Homo sapiens: one gene and its partners. The protein of the gene in region 2 purifies or fractionates together with the protein of the main gene of each other region. This does not show direct contact. Each region holds a gene or a part of one and is shown on either strand. Other genes may lie near its edges.

The links. The genes of interacting proteins can lie anywhere in the genome.
Region 1: the proteins of ZNF23 (region 2) and ARID2 purify together in Homo sapiens (affinity purification with mass spectrometry; one large-scale study listed by BioGRID and IntAct). This does not show direct contact.
Region 3: the proteins of ZNF23 (region 2) and GTF2IRD1 purify together in Homo sapiens (affinity purification with mass spectrometry; one large-scale study listed by BioGRID and IntAct). This does not show direct contact.

The regions. Positions count from the first base shown.
Region 1 is NC_000012.12:45,732,706-45,736,205, reverse strand, and holds part of ARID2 (AT-rich interactive domain-containing protein 2), read right to left. Parts: intron 1-3,500. UniProt on the Homo sapiens protein: Involved in transcriptional activation and repression of select genes by chromatin remodeling (alteration of DNA-nucleosome topology). Required for the stability of the SWI/SNF chromatin remodeling complex SWI/SNF-B (PBAF).
Region 2 is NC_000016.10:71,455,748-71,459,247, forward strand, and holds part of ZNF23 (zinc finger protein 23), read right to left. Parts: intron 1,082-3,500; 5' UTR 1,050-1,081; coding exon 1,017-1,049; exon of another isoform or gene 947-1,016; intron 375-946; exon of another isoform or gene 346-374; coding exon of another isoform or gene 325-345; intron 1-324. UniProt on the Homo sapiens protein: May be involved in transcriptional regulation. May have a role in embryonic development.
Region 3 is NC_000007.14:74,558,406-74,561,905, reverse strand, and holds part of GTF2IRD1 (general transcription factor II-I repeat domain-containing protein 1), read right to left. Parts: intron 3,046-3,500; coding exon 2,862-3,045; intron 2,280-2,861; coding exon 2,251-2,279; intron 1-2,250. UniProt on the Homo sapiens protein: May be a transcription regulator involved in cell-cycle progression and skeletal muscle differentiation. May repress GTF2I transcriptional functions, by preventing its nuclear residency, or by inhibiting its transcriptional activation.

The DNA of each region.
Region 1 (3,500 bases), on a different chromosome or scaffold from region 2:
TTTTGTATTTTTAGTAGAGACAGGGTTTCACTGTGTTAGCCAGACTGGTCTTGGTCTCCTGACCTTGTGATTCGCCTGCCTTGGCCTCCCAAAGTGTTGGGATTACAGGGCGTGAGCCACCACGCCCGGCCACAATATACTTGTCTATCAAAGACGTTATAGATTTCACACGATCAACTATGAAAATACTGAATCCACAACAAAGCAGAGATAGGATTATGAAAGAGTGCTTCTATTCAGGGACATTTTTAGTTAACAGCTAAGGTAGAAAATTTAACTGCAAAAAAAAAGCATATAAACATTTTTGGGAATTATAATGTTCTCATTTTGTATCCTCAGGAAAATTTGTAACCTCAGTGAAAACTATCTGTCTTAGAAAGAACTCAATTTATTTCTACTTTGGGCAATTTAAGCTCTAAAAACATGGATTCTAAGACATAACACTAACCTAGCTGAGCTTTGATAAGTCTTTCAACTTTCTCCACTTTCTGCTCTTCCTTTCAACAAGTCTGCATGTCCTTTAAAAACGTAACAGAATATCAGAAAATATCAAAATCAGGTTTTTTGTTTTTTAAAATGGATACACTGCCAGGCTCAGTGGCTCACTTTTGTATCCGAGCACTTTGGAAGGCTGAGGCACAGTGGCTCACTTTTGTATCCCAGCACTTTGGAAGGCTGAGGCGGGAGGATACCTTGAAGCCAGGCATTCAAGACAAGCATGGGCAACAAAGCAAGACCCCTGTCTACACACACACACACACACACACACACACACACACACACACACGATACAGTTTATAAAGTTAAATTTGAAATACATGCATGAATAACTTATTGATATATTTGTCTTCCAATCTCCATATACTTTTATTTTCCTTCCTTGAATAAGAAGGGCAATCAGTTTATTCAGTTCCGTTTAGCAATTTACAAACTCAGTGCTTATATACCTAAGGCTTTCTCTTAAAAGAATTGATCTATATGGTGGACACTAACTAGAGAACACATGAGTGTATTCATTCAATTTAACTAACAAATGTAAACTCCCTCAAATGGTGTAATTTAAGAAAGAGCTTTACCCACCAAGAAAAAAAAAATAGAATAAATTCACAATGCGATTGAAAATGTACTATGGTAAACATAACTCTACAATTAAGTTTCTGACTATTCTAAAGGTAGGTACATATAAATAGAAATGAATATTTCAGTGCCAGAAAACTAGTAACATATAGTTTTGTACAATAAATTTTTAATGTCCAAGATATTTCACCCCCTTTCCAAAAAAATCAAGTTTTATAAAGGAAACATCAAGTTAACCTTGACTATAGCTGTAATATTGGCATCAGTAAGCAAAAACAAAATTTTAAAATATTTGAAATATTTACCTAAATCTTCATACCAAAACTTCAAATTCTTAACCCAGATAAGACCAGCAAACTGTCCCCCAATTTCAACAACAAAACAGAACAAAAAATTAAAATCCACCAAGTAAATATGGAACACATTAGGCAAAGAGATACTTGGGCATAAATTTAACCATAAGTAATTTCCAAATATTATTGAACACGTCATGAACACAACATTTTGGTCCAATTAATGAAATGTTCCCTAAGCCATTTAATTTTTTTTTTTTTTGCACTTTAATATCTCCATCTACAAAATGTGGGAAACTATACCTTATCCTTTCATACTATAGGAATATCCTAATAATAAACATTGGTGGAACACATTGAGATGTACATGCCAAGAAAAGGAACTACATGAAAATAAAGTGCATAAACATCACAGATGATTAGTATCCAATTTTTAATTTATTTATTTTATTTTATTTTATTTTTTTGAGAAAGAGTCTCACTCTGTCGGCCAGACTAGAGTGCAGTAGCACGATCTCCGCTCACTGCAACCTCCGACTCCCGGGCTCAAGCAGTTCTCCTGCATCAGCCTCCCAAGTAGCTGGGATTACAGGCATGAGCCACCATGCCAGGCTAATTTTTCTATTTTTGGTAGACACGGGGTTTCACCATGTTGGCCAGGCTGGTCTCAAACTCCTGACCTCAGGTAATCCGTCTGCCTCGGCCTCCCAAAGTGCTGAGATTACAGGCGTGAGCCACCGCACCTGGCCTCCAATTTTTAAATAGACTGCTTTTACACATTATCTGTAAGCACTTTACTTTTTTTTAATTTTTAATTTTTGTGGGTACACAGTACGTGTATATATTTCTGGAGTAGGTGAGAAACTTTGATACAGGCAGGCACTTATATTTGTAAAAATTAAATGCCAATGTTAAAATAATCAATTGCATTTTCAATTTTAGACTCTAAGAAATTTTTGTAGACAAGCTATAACTGAATAAATGTATATTTGAGAAAATTAAGTTAATGTCTGGCAGACCATTAATACTCAAGTCTATATTTAATGACTGTCAATATTTGTATCAAAAATAACAAAACACTATTAAAATATACATGGCCAGCATACTAGCTTGCTCTTCCTAATTTAAATTATCTGTAATATTATGAAGATATATCATAAAACACTAGGCTAACAGCCATCCATCCAATTAATAGCAAACTTACAGGGGAATGTGAGCAAATATTAAACTTGTAAAGGAGGAATAACACATATAATGACAGTCTTACAATAGGTCAAATGAAAAAGCAGTTCATATTAAAAAATTATTCCACTTGTAATTTAAAAAACACACTGCATTATCTGCTCATCAGTAATGATGATATTCAATCTGACGTAGCAAAGAGGTAACTTATCAAGTCACTCGATTACTATTTCTTACTATGAAGAGCCAATCTTATGGGTAGGTAATAGAATTGCTGTTACTTGGCATCTTGTCTGCCAATTAAGATTTTTCAGAGGAAGGTGTAAAAGCTAGCATCATATATATCCTCTTACTGTGCAATATTAGACCACCAGGAAAAAATTCTTTCAAGGTTGGTAGTACCTAAGTTTTGACCAGCATATTTCTTTTGTATTTCTTTACAAGCCATGCAAATCTTCACATGGTTTTATTTTCCAAAACAAATGCTTCAACTTTTTTCCTAGTAGCCTAGCTACAACCCTGCAAAAACAAACCTAGAGAGTGACATATGGAGGAAAAACAAGTTTAACTAAGGACATAGTTCAAAAAGCAGCTTCTAATAAGAGCAAAAAGCCCAATTTGATCTGAAGACCATGTAAATACTTACAATGTTGAAACTATATAGTTAAAAACAGTACCTATAATTAATGATATCCTCCCAAGATAAAAATGACAACTGGAAAAACAATATTTATAATTAACTTTTGTTAAAAAAAATTGGAAGCCTAGATATTAATTTGATTATGCTAAAACTATTAGTATGAATGTAAACTCTTCAGAAAAATATACATCTCATGAATCATGTATATTCTATAGTACTTTCTGGTTATAAAACTTAAGTCAATCAATCTAACAAATATGAAGCAAAACTTCAAAAATATGTATTTCAAACAGTCCAAAATTCAAATG
Region 2 (3,500 bases):
TCTTCTTTGTGAAGTGGTCACCGTGCTTTTGAATCTTCCTTACAAATTATTCCATACACATCACAAATCTGACCAAGTTAACATCACTGGTTCCACAGCTGTCTTATGGCTAAGCAGTTCTGAATCACACAATAACTCTGTGATCCTGGGCAAGTTACTCTACTCCCCTTTTGCCTTTTCTTTTTAGGTGGAAAGAGTACAACACAGCACTTATCACAGAGGCGGTTGTCAGGACCAAACGACCATACAAAGGGCTTAGTATGGCTCCTGGAGCATAGTAAGCCTCCAAAGATACAACTGGTGTGACTGTGGACTGTTCCCAACCTGTAGTCCATGGAAGTCCATGGATGAGCTTCAGGGGATCCGTGAAGTCCCTGAAAATGTATGGAAAATTTGGTTTGCAGGTTTATGTTCTGCAGGTTCCCCGCACAACACCTCTTTCCTGCAGGACAGGGTGGAAAGCTCTTCTCAGAGACCTAAAGTCTGCATCCTAAACTTTGAAAGCTTCACAAGCACAATGAGACATTCCGTCCCATGTGACTGTCTTCCCCCTCCCTTGACTCCACTCCCTGTGACCTTCCCTTACCCCTGAATTAGAGGCACGGCCATCCTTCTCTGATCAGGTCCTGCTATTCCTCTTCTCTACATCCCCACCACAGATAGTCCAATCCTCTGCGACTGTGCTCCACTGACACCCCTGCACAGTACATCCCACAGGGGCGGTTTCCACGTCCCCATTCACCCAGAGCCCTATGCTGGGGGTGCTCCTGTAGAGAGGAGCAGAGACCCTCAGTGTGCAGAAGACCACCACCCTCCTGCTCTCCTGCTCACTCTCCCGCTTCCTCCACTCGCTACTGTCCTGGTCTCTGCCGCCCTCCCTGCACAACACCTCTTTCCCACAAGTTCCAGTCCAGCAGGTGGAAGCAGCTGTCATCCCGAGGCTCACCAGCTCCCCTTCTCAATGTTTTTCAATCTGAAACTGCCCAGAGGAAGAGCTGAAGGACCCCACAGCTCACCTGGGGCCAGGCTGTCAGGTGCATGGCTGCCATCCCCTGGTCCCCGTCTCAGAGAAGGGCTGGAGCTAAGGAGAAACACAAAGAGAGACAAGTGTGAGGCAAGCCACCCCAACCAGAGCAACATAGCCCCTCACAGAAAATGCAAGACACAGGCAGCTTGCATCCAAATAGGAGTGCGAACAGGAGCTGCCCAAGAAGGGAATGATCTGTTCACTGGCTCAGTGCCTAGGACTCCAGGCTATGACACTGAAATTCACTGCCAGGAACCCTAGGACTTTACAATTCTGATACATATCACACACACTGAAGAGTATATATATAAAATTTAAAAATAAACAAATAAAAATTAAAAATAAAAAGAAGAAGAAGAGTGCATATAAAACCTGCTGGGCACGGTGGCTCGTGCCTATAATCCCAACAGTTTGAGAGGCCAAGGCGGGTGGATCACTTGAGCTCAGGAGTTCGAGACCAGCCTGGACACATGGCAAAACCCTGTCTCTATAAAAAATACAAAAATTAGGCTGGGCGCGGTGGCTCAAGCCTGTAATCCCAGCACTTTGGGAGGCCAGGGCGGGTGGATCACAAGGTCAGGAGATCAAGACCATCCTGGCTAACACGGTGAAACCCCGTCTCTACTAAAAATATAAAAATTAGCCGGGCGTGCTGGCGGGCGCCTGTAGTCCCAGCTACTCGGGTGGCAGAGGCAGGAGAATGGTGTGAACCCGGGAGGCAGAGCTTGCAGTGAGCCAAGATTGCGCCACTGCACTCCAGCCTGGGCAACAGAGCAAGACTCCGTCTCAAAAAAAAAAAAATTAGCCAGAGGTGGTGACACATGCCTGTGGTCCCAGCTATTCGGGAGTCTGAGGTAGGAGGATCACTTGAGCCCGGGAGGTCAAGGCTGCAGTGAGCCAGTATCACACCACTGCACTCCAGCCTGGGTGATGAGAGTGAGACGCTATCTCAAAAAAATAAAAAATAAAAATAAAATAAAATGTATGCAGAGCCTAAAAAATAAAGCAAAGAGTCATGTATCCACAATTCATTTCAAGAAATAGGACAATACCAAGATCTTTGACTTATTTCTCTTTCTCAACACAAGCATTATCTTCAGTATCACAGCAGGAGAAGCTGGACTGGCTGGGCTGCAGCCCCAGTACACAAGCCTGGGGAGTCAGACCCCAGGGAGGCAGCGCCTGGAGAAGGCAGCTGCCCCCCAGTATCCTGCCCCACTTCCTCAGAGCTCTGAATGTCCTCAAGAATCCTAACACCTCTGGAGAGGTCTTGAGAGGTCAGTCCTCCTAAGGACAGCACAGGCTGTCCTTAGGAAGCTGAGCTGGAAGTTAGGAACCAGGCTGTTTCCCAAACTTTCCAGTCTTCTGATAGTGAATGAGCCAAGGCCTACACTTCTGCGTCAGCTCCTGAGAGAGGAGATCACTGTAGCAGCCAGTCCCGTGACCCAGAGCCTCTTGTTCACTGTATTCAAAAACATATGGACTAGTGATTTTCTGACTTTTACTGCCCCTAAAGTCAGTCTTGAAATTACATTTTCCTAAAATATCATCCATTTCTTCCAGGATTTCAACTTTACTAGTACAGAGTTGCAGAAAATACTGGTTCATGATTCTTTCCATTTCCTCCATATCCAGAGCTAGTTTGCTTTTCCCACTTCTTCTTTTGAATATATGTGCTTTCTAGACCTTTTTCCCAGGGTTAGAGTTAGAGACTAAACATTTATGCCCCTGCCAAATTCATATGTTGAAGCTCTAGCCTCCAATGTGACTGTATATGGAGACGGGGCCTGTCAGGAGGTTACAAGGATAAATGAGGTCCTAAGGGTGGGACTAAAGGTCCTAAGGTTAAATGAGGTCCAATAGGGGTGATGCCTTTACAAGAAGAAGGAGAGACCCAGAGCCCACGAAACCACTCACTCCCCGCCTCCCCCATGTGAGGACACAACGAGAGGGCTACTATCTATAAGCCAGGAAGGCAACCCTGGCAGGAGCCAAAATCAGCTGGCACCTTGATCCTGGACTTCCAGTCTCCAGGACTGTGAGAAATAAGTATGTTGGTGAAGCCACCCAGTCTATGGTATTTTGTTATGGCAGCCCAAGCAGACTAATACAGTTAGGCTGAGCAGTGTTTTACTTATTTTAATGTGGTTTCCTTTTATTTTCAAAGAACCAGCTTTTCTAGTTGAGCAACACTACTTTCTTCTATTTGTTTTAAATTCACTAATTCTGCTCTTAGTTTGTTCCTTCAGCTCTGTAAGGGGCAGTGTAAGCACCACTCCAATCCTCTTATCCCATCCTCAGTCCAGTTCTACAGAGGTTAGTCAGCTTTGTGAAGCTGCAAGCTACCAGAACCTTCACAAGGACCTACATCACCTATGCCTGGTTCCTGCCCTGGGGCTTCTCTGGTGTCCTATGTGGGACACCTGTGGACACCTGCTGGGCCCTGAAGTGCAGAGGCATTAACACCTGTGGG
Region 3 (3,500 bases), on a different chromosome or scaffold from region 2:
ACTCACACCGAGCCTCAGTCTCCCCCTCTGTAAGGTGGGCTCTAGCGTCAACCTCCTAGCTATGAAGACTAAATGAGATGCCTCCTCTGTCTGCACTCTGCTGTAACCCTAGTTCCTCTAGAATACCACCTTGTCCCAGCAGGACCTCCCAAAATATGTGTGAAAGGCACCCGCATAAAGCACCAGTGCAGGGCCAGAAACCCAGTGACCTCTCAGCCGGGTGTCCACTGGAGCCACACTCACTGCACTGTGCTGCTGCAGCTTCCACTCTCTCCACCTTTCCAACATCATCTGACCACTCTGCCCCTCCGAGAGCTCCGGAAACACACTTCTGGCATCCAGTGACCCCCCAACCCCTGCCGTTCACCCCGCCAAACCCACCCTCCTCTCTGCCTCTCAAAGTCCCATCTTCCCCTGAGGCCCAAGCAGGGCCATCCTTACTCCAGGAAACCCTCTCCAACTACCCCTCACCCTCCTGATCCCCCTTCTGGGGGTTCCCGTGGCCTGTCAGCAGCCGCCACATCACTGTACCCTAAGTTCTTTTTTTTTTTTTTTTTTTGAGACAATCTAGTCCCGTCGCCCAAGGTGGAGTGCAGTCGCGCGATCTCGGCTCACTGCAACCTCTGCCTCCCGGGTTCAAGTGATTCTCCTGCCTCAGCCTCCCAAGTAGCTGGGATTACAGGTGTGCGCCACCACACCTGGCTAATTTTGGGATTTTAAATAGACATGGGGTTTCACCATGTTGGTCAGGCTGATCTCGAACTCCTGACCTCAAGTGATCCTCCTGCCTTGGCTTCCCAAAGTGCTGGGATTACAGGTGTGAGCCACCGTGCCTGGCCCGCCCTGGAGGCTCTGGCCAGCCCTTAGTGCTTGCCAAGTGGCATGTCGCCCCGCAGGGACAGCCCCTGCAAATCTGGGTTTGGGATCACCCTGCAGGGACAGCCCCTGCAAATCTGGGTTTGGGAGGCCAGGACACAGTCCATGGTGGAGACAGAAGTGGATGGGTGCCTTAAAAAGGGTCAGGAGGTCGGGTGTGGTGGCTCATGCCTGTAATCCCAGCACTTTGGGAGGCTGAGGCAGGAGGATCACTTGAGGCCAGGAGTTTGAGACCAGCCTAGCCAATATGGTGAAACCCAGCTCTACTAAAAACACAAAAATTAGCCGGGCATGGTGGTGCCCACCTATAATCCCAGCTACTTGGTAGGCTGAGGCAGAATAGCTTGAACCTGGGAGGTGGAGTTTGCAGTGAGCAGAGATAGTGCCATTGCATTCCAGCCTGGGCAACAAAGTGAGACTTGGTCTGTCTCTGTCTCTCTCTCTCTCTATATAATATTTTTTATTATATATATAATATTTTTAATTATATATAATATTTTAATTATATAAATATTTTTAATTATATATAATATTTTTATTATATATATTTTTTATTATGTATATATTTTATTATATATATAAAATATTTTTTTAAAAAGGGTCAGGAGAGGCACTGCACTGTTTAAGGCAGGGTAGGCGCCACCCACATCTTACCAACATGCTTGTGGTCCCCATGCAGACACCCCTCCTTCTGCGGTTAGGAACCCACTCACCTCCAACCTCGCCTATTCACTGAGGTCAACCAGAGCCCCTTTATCAGGAGGAGCAGGTGCACTGACTCGGCCTGGCCCCTCCCTCCTGAACCCAGACTGGGTAAAACTTAGAAGTCACTGACGCCACCACCCCTTTCTCTGTCCCAGGATCTGGGGCCACATTCAAGCTTAGTCTTCCTCCATCTACCTGGGGCAGGAGCCCAGGTAAGGTGGCTAAACAGAAGGGCAGAGGCCTAGGCCGGGCGCAGTGGCTCACGCCTGTAATCCCAACGCTTTGGGAGGCCGAGGTGGGTGGATCACTTGAGGTCAGGAGTTTGAGACCAGCCCTGGCCAACATGGTGAAACCCCGTCTCTACCAAAAATACAAAAAATAGCCAGGTATGGTGACAATTGCCTGTAATCCCAGCTACTCAGGAGTCTGAGGCAGGAGAATTGCTTGAATCCAGGAGGTGGAGGTTGCAGTGAACCGAGATGAAGCCACTGCACTCCAGCCTGGGTGACAGAGAAGGACTCTGCCTCAGAAAAAAAAAAAAGAAAGGCAGGGGCCTGGCTTCTGTTCCCAGACCCCAGAACCTGTGCCCCACAGCAGGCTTAGCTCCAGTCCCCAGCACCACGATCGGGCCCTATTCCCAGTGCCCCCTCCACAGCCAGTGCCTCTTACCAGGCTTTGGGATGAGTCCTTGGAAAGGCCTAGAAGAGAAACAGAGGCAGGGGTGTCATGGGGAGGGCCTGGGGGATGAGGAAGACACCCCTGGGATTCAGTGGCCTCGGTCTCCCCTGGGAGCACCCCAGACCTACAGCAGCAGAATCTGCATTTTAACAAGCTGCCCTGGGGCTCTGTGTGTGCGGGACACTGAGACAATGTGGCAGGGTGCTGGCATTGGCAGTGTCACTCTGCAGGACGCAGACCTGGGCCTTGTGCAGGCTTTGCCCTGGCTGGCCCCGGGACCTTGGGCAAATCCCTCTGATGGGGGCTGAATACCTTTCCCGGGGGCTGGGGGTGCAGTGAGCGGGTGTTGCTGAACAGGTTGAAGATGCCCTCAAAGGCTGCCCTTGCCATGGGGGGGTGACCAGTCCCACTTCTGAAGGGCTCCCTTCACTTGGGCTGGCCTGCAGTCCCTCTCCAACCACCCCCAGGACCCAGGATGGTGCCAGGAGAGCCACCTTGTCCAGGGGGGAGGGCAGGACCTAGGGAAAGGCTAAGGATTCGCAGGTGCAAGCTCCCATCTGAGCTAGTCCTGCCTCTTCACCCTCACCCTTCCCACTGAGTACCTGGTGACTGTGAACTTGATCTTGTCAGCCACAGCAAGAATCCTCTCCAGGTTCTGGGAGCCGAAGGTACAGGGCTTTCGGAACGGGATTCCTGGGGGCAGCCCCTCGATGATCACGGAGCCGGGGTTACTCTTGATCCGCTTGTAGGGGACCTGGACCGGGTACTTGATGCCCAAGGCTTCCCCTGTGGGCGAGAGGCAGGGTCCTGCCCGTCAGGAGTGAGAGGCAGCGTGGGGTGTGTGTACATGGGATTGCGGGGATGTGATGGAAAGACATGCGTGCAGGAGAGTGAATGGTACGAGAAAGCTCTTATGTAGTGTAGCACTGTGGAAAGGTATAGGCATTACAATCTGAGCTGTTTGATCAGAACATAAAAAAAAGGCCAGCATGGTGGCTTATGCCCGTAATCCCAGCATTTTGGGGAACCAAGGCAGGAGGATCTCTTAAGTCTAAGAGTTCGAGATCAGCCTGGGCAACACAGCAAGACCCTGTCTTTACTAAAAATTTCTAAAAACTAGTTGGGCATGGTAGTGCCCAGTGGGGTGTAGTTCCAGCCACTTGGGAGGCTGAGGCAGGAGGATTGCTTGAGCCCAGGAGTTTGAGGCTGTAGTGAACCATGATCACGCCACTGTACTCCAG